Regions from separate parts of the Homo sapiens genome. Here region 2 is linked to region 1. The links come from fine-mapping of genetic effects on gene expression. A gene starts in region 1. The other region holds a variant in brackets. All regions are shown on one strand. Distances are between the middles of the regions. Region 1 holds the start of RALGDS (ral guanine nucleotide dissociation stimulator). Region 2 holds the start of LOC124902343 (small nucleolar RNA U13).

What was found. PIP is the estimated chance that this variant, and not a neighbour inherited with it, causes the effect.
Region 2: its variant is the best candidate, but not a certain one, in a credible set for the expression of RALGDS in skeletal muscle (GTEx, PIP 0.85).

Annotation. Positions count from the first base shown.
Region 1 is chr9:133,118,218-133,123,585 of GRCh38, forward strand. RALGDS (ral guanine nucleotide dissociation stimulator) reads right to left here and starts at 3,023. Exons shown (of 18, transcript NM_006266.4): 1 at 2,755-3,023. The coding sequence starts at 2,937. RefSeq lists an enhancer at 1,927-2,623 and a silencer at 2,603-3,312.
Region 2 is chr9:133,088,440-133,093,807 of GRCh38, forward strand. It overlaps LOC124902343 (small nucleolar RNA U13), which reads left to right and starts at 4,613; the gene lies at 4,613-4,712. RefSeq lists an enhancer at 2,049-2,550. The variant A/G (reference allele first, on the strand shown) is at 2,514.

The DNA.
Region 1 (5,368 bases):
CACACCCACACAGGGACAGGCCCTTTGCCTTGGGGTCTTCAGTGTCAAAGTGCTCATGAGCCCTGGGGATTAAACCGAAGACCTGCACACAGTGTGATCAAGAGATCAAACAGTGGGAAGACGCGGGAGGCTGAAGGGAGATGCTCCCTGTGAATACAGAGAAGCCCTCTTCACTCCAGCCCACCTGCAACTGCCCTCAGGCCTTGGGTCAGAATCCTGGCCCTGCCACTGACCAGCTTGGTCACTCTGTGCAATCTAATTCACCTCTGTTGCCTCAGTGACTTTATCTGTCAAGTGAGCTCTTAACAGTCTTGACCCCAAAAGGAGATGATGCAAATTACTTAGCCAAGGACCTCCCCAAAACCTGCTGGCTCTTATTAGCTGTTATCTTAAACCTGTGGGGTCCAGTTCTGGGCTTGCTTCCTCCAGGTAGCTCTCCCCAGCGTCCTGTGGCCCAAAGCACTTTTGCCTTCCTCTGAGCCATAAGCTTCCCTACTGCTCACCTGACCTCAGGGCTTCTGGGCTGCCTGGGCTTCCTCTGACTCCTGGTGGCTCCTGCACACAGTAGGTGCCACAGAGAACACAGCCCATGCTTAAATCCTGGCTGCGGCCCTTGCTGGCTGCACGGGTGTTTAGGTCAGAGACTTCCCTTCTCTGACCCCCTAGCTTCCTAGAAGGTGGTGTTGGCACCTACTCTGTAGGGTTGGTCTAAGGCAGATGAAGTGAGGGGGTGGCCCACAACCTGCACTTTTTGTCTGGCCAAAGCAACAGCCTGTCCAGAGATGGGGGCACGGACCAGGTCACCTCCAGAAAGCAAGAACTGTGCAGGCCAAGCTGGGTCATTGGTGGCTTGGCTTAGAATCGGGAAGATAAGCGGAAGCCCAGATGTGAGGAGATCTGGCAGCCCAGAGGGAAGCACCGGGTGGAAGCTAGGTAGGGAAACAGGGATGCGGGGGAAGGCAGAAACTGTCTGGTGGTTTCCAGAGAGGACAGGGACCAAGTGCGCAGCGTCAGCTCTGGCAGGCCACATAGACACCAGGAAACCAGCCCCAGGACGGGGGGTGTTGGCAGGAGGGACAGGGACTTCCCCGCCCCCTCCCTTGGGCCCTTGGTAAATGGTCATTGTGTTCAGTTTCCGGCAGTGGCCTCCTCTCCTGCCAGGATCCTGGTTTTCCTGACCCAGCCAGAAGCTTCCCCTTTGATTTCTAAATAGCAGTCGAGGTCTGGATCTCAGTGCTGAGGCTGGGCAAGGAGCGCCAGGGCCAGAGAGAGGGAAGACAAGACCCCCAGGCAGGGGTGGGGCTCAGCTCTGCCTCTCCCTCAGTTCCTCAGGGACGGAGAGAGGGAACCTGCACGGCCACTGTGAGCGCTCCGCCGGACCCTCCCAGCACACAAAGCCCGAGCTGCTGCCAGAGGTAATGAAAGCCAGATGAGCGCTGGGCTGGTGTCAGCCTCCCACCCCCACCCTCCCAGGGGTCCCTCTCCAGCCGCCAATGAGGACCAGAGCCCTGGATAGATGAGGGTTGAGGGAACACGTCTGGTCCGGCCATCTGCCAAGCTCAGGAGGAAAGGGTCTCTCAGGCGTGTGGTGTTCCCCCACCAAGAGCTCTGCCCAACACTGGGCGGAGAAACAAGTCGCATCCAGGCCCTGTCTAGGTACCGGGACACCAAGAGGCACGAGACTCAGGCTAACAATCGCCAGCAATCACAACGCGCCACAGTCTAAAGCCATGAAGCGACTGGAGACGCAGCAAGGCAACACGATGCCGCACGGGGACTCAGGAGGTTCACTGTGAAGGCTGCAGCCCAGCCAAAGCTCTGATGGGCCCTGAGCCCCCGATCCAGGAATGGCCTCTGTGCAGGCCCTGTGCCCAGGCAGAGCAGGGCGAGGGGGGCATCTCTGGATTCCACTCCCTCTGCTGTGTAGTCAGCAGCAGTCAGGTGGGAGGCAGATGGCACCACCCAGAGACCCAGGGCACACGAGAAACAAGCCCCCGCCCTCACCTAGTCACCCTCCCCTCCATCCATCACAGGTACACCACTCCCTTCTCTGAATCCTACCCAGTCCTTACCGATTCAGGGTGTTGGCACTCTTTCCAGTTAAGCAGAAACAAGTCTTGCCCGCCCTGGGCCTGGGCCACCCTCCTCCCCTCACCACCAGGACATCTGGTCCCACGTGTTGGAGGCCTGCTGCTCCACCCCATCCCCCGACCCCCCCCCCACCCCGCTCTGAGCAGCCCCGATGTCCCTGGTCACCAGATCCACATCTGCCCCAAGTAGGGTCTGTCTGGAAGGCCCCTATGGTCTCATCACCTCTGAGGATTCTAGGATTTGGCCTTCCCGACCACTTGTTCCACACCTGCATCGTAAAGGCTAACGACGCGCTGCGGGCCCTGGGTGGGAACTGAGTGAAATAAGGCACAGGCCACCGATGTAAACAGGGACAGTGCCGCAGAAAAAGGTCCACCTGGGCTGCAGCGGCCTTGGTGACAGCAGGCCCTGGAACGGTATTGAGGGGCGCAAAACCCCAGCCGTGGTCCCTACTGTTGGACGGGGCGCGGCGGCAGCCCCCACTGCCCACCCTGCTGGCTGATTTCTGCAGAAGGCCCCGACCCCCACCTATGGAGGAGAGAGGAGGGAGGCGGCCCGCTGGGATCGCCCGGCCCCGTCCGGGGCTCGCCCCGACCTGCCCAGCTCTGCCGCGGGTGGGGAGGCTCCGACGCACCCCCCGCCCGACCGCCCCAGCTCACCCACCTCCGGGCGCGGCAGGTCGGGGTCTAGCTGCGTGAAGCTGTGCAGCACCACCGGGCAGCTGTCGGGGACGCCCACCTCCAGGCGCACGGCGTCCCACACGCTGCGGCTCCGCCGGGAGCCCGGAAACAGCGGCTCGGCGCCGCCAGCAGGCCCGGCCGCCTCGGCCCACATGCGCTGCACCATGGAAGGCTCGCAGCGCGGGCGCGGGGCCGGCCCGGCGCGCGGCGGGGGCGGCGGCGCGGCCCGCGCGGCTGGGCTTTGCCACCGCTGTGAGCCCGCGGCCCGGCCCTGCTGATGTCAGGCTGGGGGGCGGGGCCGGAGGGGAAGAGGGTGGGGCCGGGGAGGGGCGGAACCGGAGAGTCCGAGGGACGCGTGCGTGCGCGCGCCCGCGGCCCCGCCCTCGCCGAGGTCAGACCCGGGGCGGGACCGGGAGCCTGGAGGGGCGGGGTCTGAACAAAGAGGGCGGGGCCGGGGAGGTCGAGGGGTGCGCGTTGGCTGGGTCTCCCGGAGGACCGGCTGTCACGTGTGTCGTGGGGCCTTGGGTACCCCGGTTAGGCACCGTTTGCGTGTCACGCTGCTGCAGTGCGTGTGTTGCGTAGGGCTGAAATGTGTACGTGCTGATCATGTGTGGGGAAGCCGCCCTGGAGTCAGCTACCCCGAATTCCAGCAAAGCCTCTCCCCAACTCTGTGGCCTTCCACAAGTTGCTTAACCCCTCTGAGCCTCACTGTTTCTTCATCTGGAAAATCTGGGTAGTGAAAATGACTTCCTCAAACAGTTGCGGGGAGGATGACATTACGTAATGGACATGAAGCACTCAGCACTGAGCACCTGCACCTGACTACAGGCTCAGGCGGAGTTTGGAGAGGCTGACCATGTGTTCAGTGACCCTGTCAGTGCAATTGGAAATCCTGAGTGTGGGGCTGTGTGTGCAGTGGGGGAAAGGGTCAGAGAGTGGGGCCCTACCTTTTTGGGGCAAAGCCCCACACTATCCCCTTACAGACACCCTCAGAGGAGGGGAAGCCAGGGAGGTGGGGGAGAGCGGAAGGCACCAAGGTTGGGGCTGAGAGGCATCTGACAAGGAGGAAGGCATCAAGAGTGACAACGCTGGGCAGAGCACATGGCTGCGTGGCCTGTCAGCTGGGGCTGCTTGTGGCTTGGACATCCCTGGTCTCAGGGTGGAAGTGGGGCTGCTGGGGCTGAAGGGGAAGCAGGGACAGGGACATCCTCAACTACTCTTTCTGGAAGCCAGTGAGGAAGGAAGACAGCCTGGGGCTTAACAGCAGGGCCAGGAGAATGGATGAATGAATGGGACCCTTCCTCATGCCTCACTCATCACTGGGCCTGCCCTGGCCTCAGCCTTCAGTCTTCATGGAGGCCAGCAATTGCTGCCAGCAGCCCTGGCCATGCCAACCTCCCCAGGTCTGGTCCGTACTATTGGGCCTCAGTTTCTCCATCTGTAAACTGAGAGGGCGGGACCAGACAGCACATTCCACGAGCACATCTTGCCCCCTTCCCAAGTGCCAATCCTCAGACACCCACGAAACACTTCCACTGTGACTGGAGTGAGGCGGCAGTTCATCCGTTCAGAACAAGACCCCCATGTGCACACGACTAGAAGGGCCTACTTCACAAAAATTATGGTGGTAAGTTGCAGCTGGGTGGAAGCTCTACTGGTTTTCATTTTACTTCTCTGAATTTCTAATTTCTAAAATCAGTATTTTAATAATCAGCTCTATGTGATAAATGCTGTTTTTGAGACAGTCTCACTGTCACCCAGGCTGGAGTGCAGTGGTGTGATCTCGGCTCACTAAGGCCTCCGCCTCTTGGGGTCAAGTGATTTTCCTGCCTCAGCCTCTCGAGGAGCTGGGATTATAGGCACCTGCCACCATGCCCAGCTAGTTCTGTATTTTTCGTAGAGACAGGGTTTCACCATGTTGGCCAGGCTGATCTTGAACTCCTGACCTCAAGTGAACCGCTCGCCTCGGCCTCCCAAAGAGCTGGGATTACAGGCAGGAGCACTACGCCCAGCCTGTTTTTGTTTTTTTTTTAAGAAGCAAGATGGGTAGATTTGATTTGGGATGGAGATCCCTAGAGGCTGTTTAGGAAGCCTCCAAGCCGTTTGGCCAGGGAGGGTAATGTGGGTGAGGCGTATTTCGAGGCAGGAGGTCCCCACAGGGCCACAAAGAGGTGACCGAGACACTGCCCTCGGCCCTAAGCTCCTCCTCCCATCCCTTTCTTCTGGGGCCAAGCTCCCAATGCCTCCGGAAACTGAAAGTCCAGAAGCTGCCTGCCACTGACTTTATCTCCTCTGCTCTCTTTATCTCCTTCGCTGAGTGATGGGCCTGGGAACAAGCGCCCACCCGTTTTATAGCCCAGAAGGACAAGTGACTCATGAGGACATAGAGGAATCACCACTATTCTGGCCTTGAAGGTCCTGGGTGCTGGGGCGAGGGGTGGCCCCAAGGAGGCTGGAGTGGTGAAGAGTAAAGAATTCATCACACTAAACCCCCCAACGCGGCTGGCCTGGCTCCCTCCCATCTGACTATATCATCTACAGGAGCCAGGGCGGGGGAGGGCGTTACTTAGCCAGTCCCTCTGGCCGGTGTCTGTTTT
Region 2 (5,368 bases), 30 kb before region 1:
AGCAGAGCTGAGCCGGGACGAACCCTGTCCCCTGGAGAAGCAGGGGACACCCTGGCTGGCTGTGACCACTTTGGCCACCCTGGGCTTCCTGGGTTGGTCAAGGGGTCTCTGGTGTAAAAAGGGGACTCCCTGTCAAAGACTGAGTGAGATGGAGCTGCCCGGCAATGTGGGCCTCTCCCAGTGACTGTCCCTGTTCTCTTGGGCAACGGAAGCCCGAGGATACAATGATGTGTCCCTTCCTTGGCCACACTGGTACCCACAGGGATTATTGTGTTTCTACCTGTGGAGTCAGCTCTCAGGCGCCTCCAGCACTGTGGGAGAAACCCCTGGGACCCCAGTGCTTCTTCCCAACCCTTGGGACTGGCACCCGTCTCTTGTTGAGAGAAAGCACAGTCATGTCTGTCATTCAGAAAATCACATCCCTGGATGGCCAAGCCACGTCAGAAGGGATGGGCTGTGGGGATCCAAGCGTGTTCTACCTCTGGGCTGCACCCGCCATCCCTCTGCTTCGGTTTGAATGCTTGTCCCCGCCAAAACTCATGCTGAAATTTAATCCCCAATGTGGCAGTATTGAGAGGTGCTGCCTTTAAGAGGTGACTGGATCATGAGGCCCTGTCCCCGTAGATGGATTCATCCATTCATGGATTCATGGGTTAGTGGGTTATCATGGGAGGGTAACTGGTGGCTTTGTAAGAGGAAGAGAGACTTGAGCTAGCATGTGAGCAGGCTCAGCATCCTCACCACGTGATGCCCAGTACCGTCTCGGGACACCAGAGTCCCCACCAGCAAGAAGGCCTTCACCTGCTGCAGCCTCTCTGAGGCAGGAGGAGAGGGAATTAGGGAAGCCAAGGGTTGGGGCATAAGCAAAGGAACAGCAGGTACAGCCCGTTCACATAAGCCAGAGAACAGCAGGTGCAGCCCGTTCTCATAAGCCAGAGAACAGCAGGTGCAGCCAGTTCTAGGCAGGATTGGGGAGCACACAGGCCACATCCTCACTGCTGTGATAACAAGTCAGGAGCTTCCACTTCAACCTCTGATTGACCCTGGGCCAATCCTCCACTTCAGCCTCTGATTGGTCCCAGGCTAATCCTTCATAGGGTGTAACCAATTGGAGGCCTCTAAAGGGCATCTGGGGTGTTCTTTATAAAAACCCTGAGAAGCATTGCAATTGGGAGGTCCTTGAGCCGTTTGCTTGGGCCCGCTCCCACCCTGTGGGTTGCACGTTCGCTTCAATCAATCTGTGCCTTTGGTAAGCTGTTTTCTTGTTGCTTTGTCTTTTTTTTTTTTTTTTTTTTTGGTGGAGTTTCACTCTCATTGCCCAGGCTAGAGTGCAATGGCACAGTCTGGGCTCACTCCAAACTCTGCCTCCTGGGTTCAAGCGATTCTCCTGCCTCTGCCTCCCAAGTAGCTGGGATTACAGGTACCGGCCACCACGCCCAGCTAATTTTTTTGTATTTTTAGTAGAGACGGGGTTTCACCATGTTGGCAAGGCTGGTCTCAGGTACCTCGGCCTCCCAAAGTGCTGGGATTACGGGCGTGAGCCACTGCGACTGGCCTGTTTTGTCTGTCATTGTTTCATTCTTTTGTTACTTTGTGAGTTTTGTTCACTTCTTTGTTCAATACACCAAGAACCTGGACAACTCAGTCAGGACCTTCCATCCTATAACACCTCAACCTCGGACTTCTCAGCCTTCATAACTGTGAGAAATTCCTTTTCTTTATAAATTACCCGGTTTTAGGTATTCTGTTATAAGCAACAGAAAATCTACTTTAAAAGCCTCCATGGCACAGGTGAGCCCTGCAGTGTGTCTGGGTGATGCCTGCAGCTGTCGAGAGGGAGGAGACAGCTCAGAGTCACCTGCAATCTGGCTCTTGCCATTACAGACTCCAGATGATGAAGTTGAAAATACTGACAGGCTGGAGGCCATCTGGGGTCCTGCTGGCTCCCAGTTCCAGGAAGCCTGGAAGAGCACTGGGGTGAGCTCGGGCCAGCGCATGTTTACTGTCACAGGGGACATGTTTCAGCACTTTCATTGTAAGGCTGTGGCCTTCTGTGCTTGTGGATCCTCAGTCTCAGTGGCCTTCCTCTTCCCCCCACCCCAACTCCTGTGTTGCGTGTTTAACACACCTACGCCCAACCGGGACATAACTAAATCCTAGACTGTGGACAAAGAATACAGTCACCTCAGGGGGCTGCGAGCTCTAAAGGCTCAGGGCCCAGCTACCCCTTTAGGATGGGTCAGTAACAACACGACTGACTCTGTAAATTGGTGATCACCTGAGACTGGACCTCAGCACCACACGGACCTGTGCTTCACCTTGGCCATCGGGGGAGAGTATGGAGGTCTTTTGCTGGCAGGAATCAGCACCCTTATCCTGGCAATCAGCACTCACTGGCCATTCATGAGGCTCCAGCAGGACGAGTGGCCACAGTGTGCAGGGCACAGGGGATGGGGCTTTCCAAGGTGTTTCTGGATGACATCAATCACACAAGGAGTTGTAGGAATGCTGGC[A/G]TCCTGGTTCACGGGTAGACGCCAGAGGATGCCAAGGGTGCTGGGTAGAAAGCAGAGGATGCCAAGGGTGCTGGGTGGTGGGCCCCTTGGGGGTGCCCAATGGCTCTGGCAGAGTTGTTGGGGCAGAGTCGGGACCACCCCCACCTCTTCCGGGTCCAAGCCCAGGCACTGCACTGAGCACTTGATGAGCCTGACCTCACCATGGCCTTGTGACGTGGGCACTGTGGGCAGGAATGCTTATGGAATGAGGCCCACTGTAACCCTAACACAGCATCACAAGTCTTTCCCCAGAGAGAAAACGCACAGGCAATGGAAATCTATGGTTAGGAACAAAGATTCCCGTCTAAGAAAAAGGGTGGACCACGGGCCTCTAGAAGGGACTGAGGGGGCAAAGTCCTGCCCGTGCACTGGCTAACACTCTTCCTTTAGCTTTTCCCCCCCACTTTCCATATTGTACATTTTATCTGTTTATAATTTTTCTTAGTGCTGACTAAATTCCAGAGTTAGACCTTGAAATCCACAAGTTCCTAATTGGTGGTCAACAGAAACCTCAGCAAGACAAGCAGAAAATGCTCCTCTTCCCCTAAAGCTGTAGAAAGGCAGCCACCAACCTGGGCTAGGAAATGGTCCTTACAGATACTATTTTTTTTTTAACTGTGGTAAAACCTATATAACAAAACTGATGCTAATTTAACTGTTTTTAAGAGTAGAATTGAGTGACATTAGTTCGATTCACTGTTGGGCAACCATCACCACTCTCTATTTCCATAATTTTTTCATCACCCCAAATAGAAGCTCTATATCCATTAGCTAACTCCTCATTTCCCCTCCCTCTAACCCCTGGTAGCCTCTATCCTTTCTGTCTCCATGAATTTGCCTTTTGGAGATATTTCTCATAAGTGGAATTGTAATGTTTTCAAAGTTCATCCATGTTGTAGCATGTGTGGGCATACCATACCTTTTTTTTTTTTTTTTAAGAAGCGGAGTTTCCCTCTTGTTGCCCAGGCTGGAGTGTAGTGGCACAATCCCGGCTCAATGCAACCTCTGCCTCCCGGGTTTAAGCAATACTCCTGCCTCGGCCTCCCAAGTAGCTGGGATTACAGGTGCTCATCACCATACCCGGCTAATTTTGTATTTTTAGTAGAGATGGGGTTTTACCATGTTGGTCAGACTGGTCTTGAACTTCTGACCTCAAGTGATCCACCCACCTTGGCCTCCCAAAGTGCTGGGATTACAGGCATGAGCCATTGCACCTGGCCTTTTTATGACTGAATAATATTCCACTGTATGTTGCTGGCATGCAATGGTGCATTCTCTTATAAAGCATTATCTTCTCATCCTTTTTATTTGTGTAAAGTTGGTAGGAATGTTCCCACTTTCATTCCAAATTTTAGTAATTTGAGTCTTGTCTCTTCTTTGTTCATCTAAAGTATTGTCAATTTTGTTCTTTAGAAATAACCAGTTTTTGGTTTTGCTGATTTTCTCTATTTTTCTATTCTCTATTTTGTTTATCTCTGCTGTAATCTTTATTATTTCCTTCATTCTGCTAGCTTTGGGTTTAGTTCGCTCTTTTTCTAATTCCTAAATGTGTGCGGATAAATTATTGATTTGAGATCTTTCTGCTTTTTTAATGTAGTCGTTTACAGCTATAAATTTCCCCCAAGCACTGCTTTCAATTTCACCGCATGCTGTAAGTTTTGGTATGTTGTGTTTTTGTTTTGTCTCAAGGTGTCTTCTAATTTCCCTTGTGACTTCCTTTTAGACCCATTGGTTGTTTAAGAGTGTGTTAAGCCTGGGCGCGGTGGCTCACGCCTGTAATCCCAGCACTTTGGGAGGCTGAGGCAGGTGGATCATGAGGTCAGGAGTTCAAGACCAGGCTGGCCAACATGGTGAAACCCCATCTCTATTAAAAAATATATAAAAATTAACCAGCTGTGGTGGTGCACACCTGTAATCCTAGCTACTCAGGAGGCTGAGACAGGAGAATTGCTTGAACCTTGGAGGTGGAGGTTGCAGTGAGCTGAGATCGTGCCACGGCACCCCAGCCTGGGCGATGGAGCAAGACTCCGTCTGGAGTCGGGGAGGGGAAGAGTGTTAAGATCCTTTTGTAGTTGATGAACAATGATGATTGGGTGTTCATGCACATGCGTGAGATGTGTCACCCTCAAACCCTTACGTCGGCACGTTACCCATCTGACGTGAAAAAGAAGAGAGTGCGTTAACTTCCACATATTCATGAGTGTTCCAGTTTTTCTTCTGCTATGGATTTATAATTTTATCCTATTGTAATTGGAATGATACTTTGTATAATTTCGTTTTAAAAATTTATTGCTGGGTGCAGTGGCTCATGCCTGTAATCCCAGCACTTTGGGAAGCCGAGGCAGGGAGATCACCTGAGGTCAGGAGTTCAAGACCAACCTGCTTAACATGGTAAAACTCCATCTCTACTAAAAATACAAAAATTAGCCGGGTGTGGTGGCGGGTGCTGTAATCCCACCTACTCGGGAGGCTGAGGCAGGAGAAGCACTTGAACCTGGGAGGTGGAAGTTGCAGTGAGCCAAGACTGCACCATTGCACTCCAGCCTGGGCAACAAGAGCAAAACTCCGTCTTAAAAAAAAAAATTAAGACTTACTTTATGGCCTAACATATGGTCTATCCTGGAAAATGTTCCATGTACACTTGACAATAATGTGTAGTCTGTTGTTGCTGGTTTGTGTGTTGTGTATATGTCTGCTCAGTCTAATTGGTTTATAGAGTTGCTCAAATCCTCTTTCCTTATAGATCTTCTGTTTGGTTGTTCTTATCCATTATTGGAAATGAGGTATTGAAATCTCCAATTGTGTATTTCTCATTT